Linked DNA regions of Homo sapiens. The protein of the gene in region 1 purifies or fractionates together with the protein of each later gene. This does not show direct contact. Each region holds a gene or a part of one and is shown in the gene's direction. Other genes may lie near its edges.

Region 1 (4,294 bases):
TAAAAACAAAATATTTGGAAATAAATGTTCATATTAATAAGGCGCATACCGTATGATCTTAGTCCAGTTAGAATATTCTGTTTTATTTCAATCCTTTAAAAGACTCAACTTCTGACTCTATATAGACGATTAAAAAAAGAATGTGTTCTCCCTTTGTGCATTTGGTCAGGTAAATTAAAAAATACACCACATGCTAGCCGCACCAAACTGGAATAAGCCTTTGGAAAGAAGTTGTCCTTGAAGCTTGTATCTGACATTGTAGCAGGACGAGCCTCAGACAAAACCTCTCAGACACTGAGTTGTAGAAGGAAGGGCTTTATTCAGCTGGGAGCATCGGCCAGCTACTGTCTCAAAATCTGAGCTCCCGGAGTGCACAATTTCTGTCCTTTTTAAGGGCTCACAACACTAAAGATTTCACATGAAAGGGTCGTGATTGATTTGAGCAAGCAAGGGATACGTGACAAGGACTACATTCACTGCTGGTCAGGGAGAAACAGAACAGGGCAGGGAGTTTCACAGAGTTCTTTTATACAATGTCTGGAATCTGTGAATAATATCAGCTTCTAAATCATAAGTTGATTTTTAGCTACTGGGTTTAGGCCAATCAGGCCCAGGCCTGGTTTCAGGCCTGGCGCTGGGCTGCATGTCTTTGGTTGTACTTCCTGGTTGTTTTTACTGAATAGAAAACAATATAAAACAAGGAGAGGGTCTTTGTCTCCTCTCAATATCAGCACTGGATTGTAGAATGTGTTGCTGATTTTGACCTTGTATTCAAGTTAACTGTTGCCCTTGGTATCTGTACATATCTTTGATTTCAGTCTTTACTACACGTGGCTTGGTCACTTCATGGCTAAAAACATGCTTGTGGAAGACCAGTCTGGCTCGGTGAGTCTGTGCGGCCAGCAGTCTCTGATCTGTACAGGGTATTAATGTGTCAGGGCTGAGTGTTCTGGGATTTGTCTAGAGGCTGGTAAGGGCTTCTGGACCACTTGTTTCTGTCCTGTCAGTCTGTCAGGGTTGGAAAGTCCAAGCCATAGGACCCAGTTTCCTTTCTTAGCTTACGTTATCTACCAGAGCACCGTGGGCTGTTACTTACCTTGAGTTGGAAGGGGTTCGCATTTATACCTGTAAAAGTATTCATCCTTTTAATTTATGTAAAGTTTTTTTGTATGCCATTCTGGATCTTTAAAGAGATGACAACAAATTTTGGTTTTCTACTGTTATGTGAGAACATTAGGCCCCAGCAACAGGTCACTGTTTAAGGAAAAATAAAAGTGCTGCCAGAACCTAAGAAAAACATTAATATCTAAAAGGTCATTTAGATGATTTCCATGAGAGACTTTTTGATGTTCTTTACCTGTTAGGATTATTATTGATAATCCTTTTCAGATTATGAATAAACAGTTTGCCCTCAAGTATTTATTCATGCTAATATTTACTTTGTAAAATGTGCTTCTTACAGGAATATAAATAGTTTCTGGAAAGGACACTGACAACTTCAAAGCAAAATGAAGTTCTTTCTGTTGCTTTTCACCATTGGGTTCTGCTGGGCTCAGTATTCCCCAAATACACAACAAGGACGGACATCTATTGTTCATCTGTTTGAATGGCGATGGGTTGATATTGCTCTTGAATGTGAGCGATATTTAGCTCCGAAGGGATTTGGAGGGGTTCAGGTGGGTATGATTCATAGTATCAATTGCGGAATTCACTGTGCTTGTAGGAAATAGTATTCTGATCTTATCTGTGAAGCTTGGGCAACATTTTACTTCACAGGTAAGTATTCTAAGTAAAAGAGATTTCTGAGGGAAAATCTATGTAGTATTCTTGGCAACTTTATATTTTGTTTCTGAGATAATCTTTCTTCACCAAGAGCCCTCCAATGTGCTGTTAATATTTTCAAGAGATAGCTGCCTATACCAAGATTCAAGAATCTTTTATACTATTGATTAGTTTCTAGAACATTCAATGATACACAGTAAGACAGAATTTGGTACTTATGAAGACTGTTTAATTTGTAGGTCTCTCCACCAAATGAAAATGTTGCAATTTACAACCCTTTCAGACCTTGGTGGGAAAGATACCAACCAGTTAGCTATAAATTATGCACAAGATCTGGAAATGAAGATGAATTTAGAAACATGGTGACTAGATGTAACAATGTTGGGGTAAGTGAATTCTAGTTTCCTTTAAAAATAACAGACAGGAAAATGGTTTCTCTCTCTTCTTTCTTGCTCCTTTTCAGCAGAAAATTTTCCGTATTTTATTTTTTTAATTTTACTTCATAATTTAAAACTCAAAATTAACTGTTTATTTATGTTCAACTTTTGTGAATATTTGTGTGTGTGCTATCTACTAAAGAGGTAAGTTAAAGTTTAAATCAGAATTTGCTTCTAAAGCAAAACATCAAATTTTAACCCTTATAACTGTTCGTATTTCCCGGAAACAATTTACTGGTTAGGAAGTATAATTCCAGTTACAATGTTTGCTATCATTTTTAGGTGACTTGTGTCTCCATCCGTAATTCTTGGGTTTTTCATGGTGAATAGCTAGCTTCTCTATTTAATGAGGAGCATAAATTGAGATTAATAGCTACCTTGTTTGTCTTCAAAAGCTTCATAGAGAGTACAGGCTTTCTCCTGGTGACCCACTGAAATTTCCAAAACAATAACCTTTCCACTCTCATCTGAGTTTTGTCTTCCCAAAGTGGGCTTTTTGCATTTCCTCCTATTTATGGTAGTTTCTGGTCTCTCAATTTATCATTCCTATAAATATTTGACCAAGTGTCTAGAAGGCATGTAGGTGTTTAGTTCACATTACTTTCCTTTCACAGTTGATTTTTGATCTTGTAGGAAAATAATTATAAGATATCATGAAATATTTTGGAGTTTTATTAACATACTATAAACTTGCATCAATAATGCTTTAAATTTCTACCTCTCTGTAAGTCACACTGAAGTAGAAACTTTGTTTTCTAGGTTCGTATTTATGTGGATGCTGTAATTAATCATATGTGTGGTAACGCTGTGAGTGCAGGAACAAGCAGTACCTGTGGAAGTTACTTCAACCCTGGAAGTAGGGACTTTCCAGCAGTCCCATATTCTGGATGGGATTTCAATGATGGTAAATGTAAAACTGGAAGTGGAGATATCGAGAACTACAATGATGCTACTCAGGTAATTTTTTTACGAGAGTGATCTGAATAAAAGAGTAATATATGCCTTTTCTTGTAGACATGTAGCTAATTGAATTTCATTTAAAATAGGAATTTAGATCTCTTAGGGACAGAAGTTAACAAGTTTGACTACTTTAAGAAACTCAAATCCATATTTAAGAACTTTCAAATATTGATTTAAGATTTTTAATCAATACACATTTGCCCACTTCTAAGAAGTTCCCAATTAAAAATCTCATCGACTTTATTTCCTAAATTCTCTATTTTCTATTAGAAAATATTTCAAAGATACATCTGTAGTAGAATGTGAGCATCCCCAGTGCCCAATGCAAGGAAGTCACTATAGAATATCTCTTGAGGAATCATGGAATAAATGAATAATCCAATGGATTCTCAGGAGAAAAATGAGGTTTTATGAATCAATCATAACATTTTTACCTCAACAGGTCAGAGATTGTCGTCTGACTGGTCTTCTTGATCTTGCACTGGAGAAGGATTACGTGCGTTCTAAGATTGCCGAATATATGAACCATCTCATTGACATTGGTGTTGCAGGGTTCAGACTTGATGCTTCCAAGCACATGTGGCCTGGAGACATAAAGGCAATTTTGGACAAACTGCATAATCTAAACAGTAACTGGTTCCCTGCAGGAAGTAAACCTTTCATTTACCAGGAGGTACATCAATACTTATATGCCTATAAAATATCATCTTATTCGTTAGAAAATTAATGGAAGATTTAATTAAAAATGCAATTTCTGTAGGATAAGGAATGAGACATTTACATAAAACAGTGTTCTTTAACCTCCTCTTCTTCACATACAGCATATCTAATTCTTTATCACAACATGTTTTATGGAGGTACACAGAATGTAGGATACTGATAATAGTTATGTCTTTACTTTCTTTGGATAATGAAACAAGTTAATATTTATCAAGGAATTTCAGTCGATACTAAATGTTTTATTAGTGTGAGCTCTTATTATTATCATTGATGTAGAAGACTAAAAATTAGGTAAGTATTTTCACAGGACAACAGGTATCTTTGACATTATGCTTCTTTCAATATTGTAGCCTATACTTTATCAAATAAAAGAATATAAGAATATTACCTGTTGA
Region 2 (2,940 bases), on another chromosome or scaffold:
TGGATTCTTCAAAGAAACAGAATAAATAGGAGATTTATTTTAAGGAATTAGCCCATGGGGTTATGGAGGCTGAGAAGTCCCAGGATCTGTAGTCAACAAGCTAGAGACCAAGGAGAGCCCATGGTACAGTTCCAGTCCAAATCCAAAGAGCTAAGAACCAGAAGAGACAATAGCATAAGTTCCAGTCCACATCCAAAGAAAGGAGAGGACCCATGTCCCAGTTCAAAGACAGTTCTCTCTTACTTTGCCTTTTTGTTCTCATCAGGCCTTCAATGGATTGGATGAGGTCCACCCACACTGGGGAGGGCAATCTGCTATACTCAGTTTATTGATTCAGAAACGCCCTCAAAGACACACCCAAGTTAATGTTTAACCAAATATATGGCACCCTGAGGCCCAGTCAAGTTAACATATAAAATTAACCATCACAGTGATAGAAGAAAATCTATATAGGATTAAATGGTCTTTTAAACTCAGAATGGGAACAATAATTTTGTTCCCACTCTGGATACATGCTGGGCAAAACTTCCATTCAAAGTAAAAGCAGAACAGCAGATGTTGCTGAAAAATATTAACTGTTAGGAGTTAATATCGTCCGAGTTTTTATACATTGCATATATTGAAACTTTGAGCCATGTGAAAAACATTAGTCTCTAGGTTGCAGATTTTCCTACCCTAGTGGAGCTGACTATAATGAGTACTGTCTGTTTCCATTATATCTTCTGTTTGTGAAGGTGGAAAGAGTCTCAAAAATTTAGATAGGGAGAGACAGATTTATATAGTTCAGTGAAAGAAGAGGAGAGGATTATTAGAAAAGGGAAGATGAATTGTGGGGAGGTGATAAATTTCAATGGCTTAAGCATTCTACTGTTTTTAAATTTTGATAGTGACTAACAAAATGCTGGAAAATGAAAATTGTTAATGTATAGAACTTAACAGTAGGTAGTTTTATCTTCACAGAAATTTTAAAATATAATGATCTTTCTGAAGTATTTTATGTCTTCAGTTTTGCTGCATGCAAAAAATAATATAAATTAATCAAATGGGATTCATTACATTATACAAATTAACTAGATAAATTGTGGGTTTTTTAATTTTAGAGATGAAGAAAATGTGGGAGCTATGAATCAGTATAGAACAAGAACTCTGAGTATCACTTCTTCAGGCAGTGCTGTAAGCTGTTCAACAATTCCTCCAGTAAGTAGTCATTCAACATGTACTGAATGTTTATTACATCACTACTGTGATCTGATTGCCTTGTCTCATTAAACAATAATGTATGCCTTTCAGGTACAGACTTCTGTTGATTGCTTTTTGACTTGTCTTGAAACCAGTACTTTCTTTGATTTTAATAAATGAATGTTGCTCAAAGGATGTGGTAGAGTTGTGTCCTGCCACCATTATGTGTAAAATGAAGGCCAAATGACTTTTTGTTGGTAAAACTCAAAACACCTTCTTTTTCAATTGTCCTGATTTTAGGCAGCCTGTTGACTAAATTTCAAGTAATTTTTTCTTAGAATACAAACTGATGAGTTTCAAAAAATTAATGTAGGTCACTTGATAAATTGATCAGGTTTGAGGTGGATGAGTCATTCTTCATATGAGCTGAAGATTAATGAGCTTGGTCACTGTGAGGATTATAAGGTGTGTAAGCCTCAGACACTTGGACGTACATGTTAATGGTATAAAATTTTGTTGTTGTTGTTTGTTTTTGTTTTTGTTTTTTTTTTGAGATGGAGTTTTGCTCTTGTCATCCAGGCCGGAGGTCATCCAGGCTAGAGTGCAGTGGCATGATCTCAGCCCACTGCAACCTCCGCCTCCTGGGTTCAAGCAATTCTCCTGCCTCAGCTTCCCGAGTAGCTTGGATTACAGGCGCCTACCACCATGGCTGGCTAATTTTTGTATTTTTAGTAGAGACAAGGTTTCACCATGTTGGCCAGGCTGGTCTCGAACTCCTGACCTCAGGTGATCCACCCACCTCAGCCTCCCAAAGTGCTGGGATTTCAGGCGTGAGCCACTGCGCCCAGCCATTTGTACTTGGATATAAGTACAAATTTGGCCGGGCATAGTGGCTCAGACCTGTGATCCCAGCACTTTGGGGGCCAAGGTGGAAGGATCGCTTGAGCCCAAGAGTTTCAGGCCAGCCTGGGCAACATAGCAAGACCCCTGTCTACAAAAAATTTAAAAGTTAGCCAGGTGTAGTGGTATACACCTGTATTCCCAGCTACTCAGGAGACTGAGGCAGAAAGATCACTCAAGCCCAGGAGGTTGCAGCCACCGTGAACTGTGTTCCTGCCACTGCACTCCAACCTGGGCAACACAGCAAGACCCTGTCTCAAAAAAAAAAAGAAGACCCTTGTTCCTGGCTTTGCAGAGTTTTGCAGCTATCTTCTTTTTTAGGAGAAAAGTTGAATGATACAAGGTTATATACAGTTATTAAATAACAGACTGTAGTGCTTCAGAGAAAGAAAAGGTCATTGTGAACTGAGTATTTCACATTTCTTATTCATCTTGTAAGTCATGTGACTTGCACAGTGTATCTTAACTGATAAGTAACTTGAATTTATGATCAAAAGACATATGAAGACTTTTCCATGGGTGATTGCTACCATCAGGTCAATTCTACAGCTGAAACTGTGAAGGCATTCTTGGATATATTCAGCAATACTGAATGCTTTCAAAAATAATTTTCTATACAAAATCTACTCTAAAAGCCTACTTTTAACCTAAAAAGCAGAGGAACAAGCAGTTTCATCTTGTTTTTTCCATCAGTTTTCATGATGGACACTAGGTGGCACTATGGTAATTTTTTAAAAATTCTGCCTATACACTATATTTTTTGCTATATAATCTGTATTTCTGTTTGGAATTTAATTTCTCCTATATAACAGTTTCTATATAGTACTGTCAGTGTTTGGAATCTTAAAATTCATGGTGTCA
Region 3 (4,223 bases), on another chromosome or scaffold:
CCTCACAGCTTTGTCTGCCTCATGGTACTGTCCACCTGGCCTCTCAGGACTGCTCTGTGGCGTGTGTGCTTAAGGGATTGAGCTCGTTGGGCTGGGGACAGAGGCCTGCCTAGGTCTGTTGAGAGGGCCCAGGTAAGACTTCCACCCAGACTGACTGGCTGGGGCACACAGAGAAGCCAGGACAGGGCTGATTGTGTGTGCAGGGGCGTGCCCTCTGGACGAGGCCCCTCCCACCGGGGCGAGGCAGAGGCCTTGCTTGGTTGGAGCGGAGTGGGGGAGTGGGAGGGTCTCCCTGGTGAGATAGTACTGGAAGGGCAGGGACAGCATTCTAGGGAAGGAACCAGAAAGAGCCCCTGCATGGAATGTGGGGATTTCACCATGAGACCCCGGCTGCCTGGCCTCTGAGAACGTGTGTGGGGGGATTCCAGGTGGAAGGTCGTGTCTGGGAGGATGGGTGGGGGGTTGAGCAGTCATTGCCCCTCTCCAGATCTGCGTCCACATCTGTAAAATGGGCCTAGAATTCCCAGCCGCTGGGGGCGAGTGAGGCCATAAATTAGTTGAGATGGACCCAGGCTCCTAAGCCCCCTAGGTCATGACCCCAAACCTTGGAACCCCCGACGGAGACGGTGGGGGTGGCCGAGGCCCAATCGAATCTATCCCGCCCAGATGTGGGAAGAACCGCAGGGCAAACCCCCGGCTTCCCTCCTGGCCGCTCCTCTCTTTGAGGCCACCTCTCTGAGCCCTGATTTGCTGGCGGGTGAACTGGGGATCATCGTGTCCACTGTGGCTGGTGGTCGTGAAACGAAGTGGAAACATGAGTGTTGAGGCCGAGATGGGCGCAGTGCGCGCTCCTAAACAGCTGTCCCCATCCGTCCGCCCCTCCCTCCCTTGCGCGGGTCAGCTGGAGCGGGGGCGCGCCAGGCACGACCCTGGCCGGGCAGAAGGCGGTGGAGCCCTTAGGGGTCGCGGCTCCTACCCCCGGCCCTCCCATGTGCAGATGGGGTAGCAGCCTGGAGGTTTTTCCCAAGGTCACGTAAGGTCAAAGAAAAGGGGAGCTGGACGCGACGAGGAAAGTCACGCACGGCGGAGGGCGGGCCACCTACGCGCGCGCCCGAGTTCGCAGAGCAGCGGCGCCCTCCCGGGCTAGGGCAGCTCGGAGCTCGGAGCCTTTCTTCGCCCGCAGCTCGGGTTCCGGGAGCCCCGCCCCCGCCCATCAACGCCCCGCCCCTTTCGCCACGGCCCCGCCCCTCCTCTCCGTTCTCCCCGCCGGCGCTCCCTCAAGTTTCTCCGAAGTTTTCCGCGGGTCCAGCGGTGCGCCCCGCCCGCCGGCCAGTGACGTAACAATGGTGCAGCGCGGCGGCCAATGGGTGGTGGCGGGGGCCGGCGGCGCGGGCCAATGGCGGCGGCGGACGGTCCCGCTGTCCTGCCTGGCCGGGGCCGCACTGCGCCGCCCGCCGCCCGCCGCCCGCCGCCCGCCGCCGGCGACGGCACCGCCGCCCTGCGATCCGGCCGCGGCGGCTCAGAGCGCGGCTGCGGCGGGCGCGGGCGGCGGTGGCTCCCTCCCGTGCGTCCGTCGTGGGACCTTTGCCCGCTCGCCCGCGGGGGACAGCGCGCGCTCCGGTCCGCGGCAGGGGCGGGGACGCCCGGCCTGTGGCCCCCGCGCCCCCCATGGTGAGTCCCCGTCCCCCGCGCCGCGCCCGCGGCCGCCGCCCCCTCCTCCTCCGGCACACGCGCACGCAGGTGCAGCCCTCGCTGCGCCGGCCACCTGCGCGCGGACGCCCCGCTCGGCCCCGCGACCCTCCGCCGCCCGACGTCTGGCCGTGCAGGCCGGGAGGGGACGGGTAGGAGGTGGCGGGTGGCCCCGGGCGCGGCGCTGCCTTCGATGGCCCAACCCCCTTATTCACGAGCCGCGGCCGTGACTCTGCCCGGTGACGTGGGGAGGCCGAACTTTACGTAACCCGCCCGGCGCCCCACGCGTGCCGGCACAGGGCATATCTGGGGCCCGGAGGCCCAGGCTTGGGGAAGGGGCTCCAGTCACGGTGTTGCCCACGGGCCACAGCCTACCCGCACCGCGCCGCTCTCTTTAACTCAGTTACTGCCAGTGATAGTGACCCAGTCAGTGTGTGTGGACGCGGCCTGCCTTCTGTCCCAGGCCCCTTGTGACCAAGGGCTTACCCTTGAAAGAAGGCAGTAGGGAGGTTGGGACGGAGCCAGAGGTCAGACGCCTAGGCTCAGGTCGGGGCTGGGGACTCAGAGGGCAGGGTCAGGGCCTAAGCTCGATTGCCTGTGGGTTGGGGGTCCCCACCAATTCTGGAATGAGCCCAAACTGAGACGCAGGGGACCTGAGTTCTAGGCCTGGCTCTGCCGTGGCTTGCTGACCTTGGAGAATTGGAGAAGCTTGTGCCCTGCTGGAAAGTGGGATGGCAGTACCCGCTTCATCTAGTAGTCGGGGAGATCAAGAGAGGTATGGGACCTGAAGAGGATGGCAGACTGTGCAGTGCGGTGCACACCGGTCTCCAGGTTGTTTTCACCCTCCTATCTCCTCCCAGGAGCTAACGTGTAAGCAAACATGTTTGGATAGAGGGCTGGTGCCACGCCCCAGGCTCACCCCGCCCGCACAGCCGTCGTCCACCCCTCCCCTTTCTTACAGATAAAGCTGAGGCTCGGCCAGGGACTGTGATATACCCACATCCCCGGAACTAGGTGATCGCGGTGCAGGAACCAGGTAGGTCTGAGTCTGGATCATGCCTCTGAACAGCCCAGGAAGAGGCTCCAGGGGCCTCCAAGTGGTCTGGGGTCGGAGATCAGGGTCAGGGTTGCGCTTGGGCTGGAGAGTGGATTTGCCTCAGCTTGAGATGTGGGCCCAAGCTTTCTCATCCCCTCCCTGGCCTTTTCTTTATTTGGGGTCGTATGAACCTGGCTTAGGTGGGAACAGAAGCTCTTCCAGTGGGTCCCTGGGTTGGAGAGGGGAGGGGAGATTTGAGGGCATGGGCAGCAAGGGCATTTCCAGCAGAGGTGCCAGAGAGCAAGTCAGTTTCAAGGAGGGAGAACAGGTACAGCTAGATCAAGGATGGAGGCGGTGGTTCTGGGCGTCGGAGAGATGGAGCTGTAGGGTGACTGGAAGGGCCTGGCCGAGGCTGGAGGTAGGTACAGGCCTGGTGGGCCAGGACCGGAGGGGCTGTGTGAGGGGCAGAGGGGAGTCCCCGGGCCTCCCCAGTTTCCCCGCGCCTCACCGTGGCCTCTTCCTTTCCCCGCAGGTGTGCCTTCGCGGGATCCATGCCTTGAGGCCCAGGAACGCCCCGCCGCCAGCATGCCGTGGGACGCGCGGCGGCCTGGGGGTGGCGCGGACGGCGGGCCCGAGGCCTCGGGCGCGGCGCGCTCGCGAGCGCAGAAGCAGTGCCGCAAGTCGTCGTTCGCCTTCTACCAGGCGGTGCGCGACCTGCTACCCGTGTGGCTGCTGGAGGATATGCGCGCCAGCGAGGCCTTCCACTGGGACGAGCGCGGGCGCGCCGCCGCCTACTCGCCCTCTGAGGCGCTGCTCTACGCGCTCGTGCACGACCACCAAGCGTACGCGCATTACCTGCTGGCCACGTTCCCGCGGCGCGCGCTCGCACCGCCCAGTGCCGGCTTCCGCTGCTGCGCGGCTCCCGGGCCGCACGTGGCGCTGGCAGTGCGCTACAACCGCGTGGGCATTCTGCGCCGCATCCTGCGCACCTTGCGCGACTTCCCGGCCGAGGAGCGGGCGCGCGTGCTGGACCGGCGTGGCTGCAGCCGCGTGGAGGGCGGTGGCACGTCGCTGCACGTGGCCTGTGAGCTGGCGCGCCCCGAGTGCCTCTTCCTGCTGCTGGGCCACGGCGCCTCGCCCGGTCTGCGGGACGGCGGCGGCCTCACGCCTCTCGAGCTGCTGCTGCGCCAGCTGGGCCGCGACGCCGGGGCCACTCCCTCCGCCGCCGGAGCCCCCGCCTCAGCTCCCGGGGAGCCGCGCCAGCGCCGCCTGCTGCTGCTGGACCTCCTGGCGCTGTACACCCCCGTGGGTGCCGCCGGCTCGGCCCGCCAGGAGCTGCTGGGCGACCGGCCGCGCTGGCAGCGGCTGCTGGGTGAGGACAAGTTCCAGTGGCTGGCGGGCCTGGCGCCGCCCTCGCTCTTCGCGCGCGCCATGCAGGTGCTGGTCACCGCCATCTCTCCAGGCCGCTTCCCCGAGGCCCTGGACGAGCTGCCGCTGC

What was found. The genes of interacting proteins can lie anywhere in the genome.
Region 2: the proteins of AMY2A (region 1) and RIOK2 purify together in Homo sapiens (affinity purification with mass spectrometry; one large-scale study listed by BioGRID and IntAct). This does not show direct contact.
Region 3: the proteins of AMY2A (region 1) and ANKRD9 purify together in Homo sapiens (affinity purification with mass spectrometry; one large-scale study listed by BioGRID and IntAct). This does not show direct contact.

Annotation. Positions count from the first base shown.
Region 1 is NC_000001.11:103,615,933-103,620,226, forward strand, and holds the start of AMY2A (pancreatic alpha-amylase precursor), read left to right. Parts: upstream 1-1,494; 5' UTR 1,495-1,508; coding exon 1,509-1,676; intron 1,677-2,021; coding exon 2,022-2,168; intron 2,169-2,978; coding exon 2,979-3,176; intron 3,177-3,621; coding exon 3,622-3,852; intron 3,853-4,294.
Region 2 is NC_000005.10:97,163,308-97,166,247, reverse strand, and holds part of RIOK2 (serine/threonine-protein kinase RIO2), read left to right. Parts: intron 1-1,100; coding exon 1,101-1,197; intron 1,198-2,940. UniProt on the Homo sapiens protein: Serine/threonine-protein kinase involved in the final steps of cytoplasmic maturation of the 40S ribosomal subunit. Involved in export of the 40S pre-ribosome particles (pre-40S) from the nucleus to the cytoplasm.
Region 3 is NC_000014.9:102,506,977-102,511,199, reverse strand, and holds the start of ANKRD9 (ankyrin repeat domain-containing protein 9), read left to right. Parts: upstream 1-1,423; 5' UTR 1,424-1,671; intron 1,672-2,347; exon of another isoform or gene 2,348-2,353; 5' UTR 2,354-2,559; intron 2,560-2,650; 5' UTR 2,651-2,725; intron 2,726-3,257; 5' UTR 3,258-3,310; coding exon 3,311-4,223.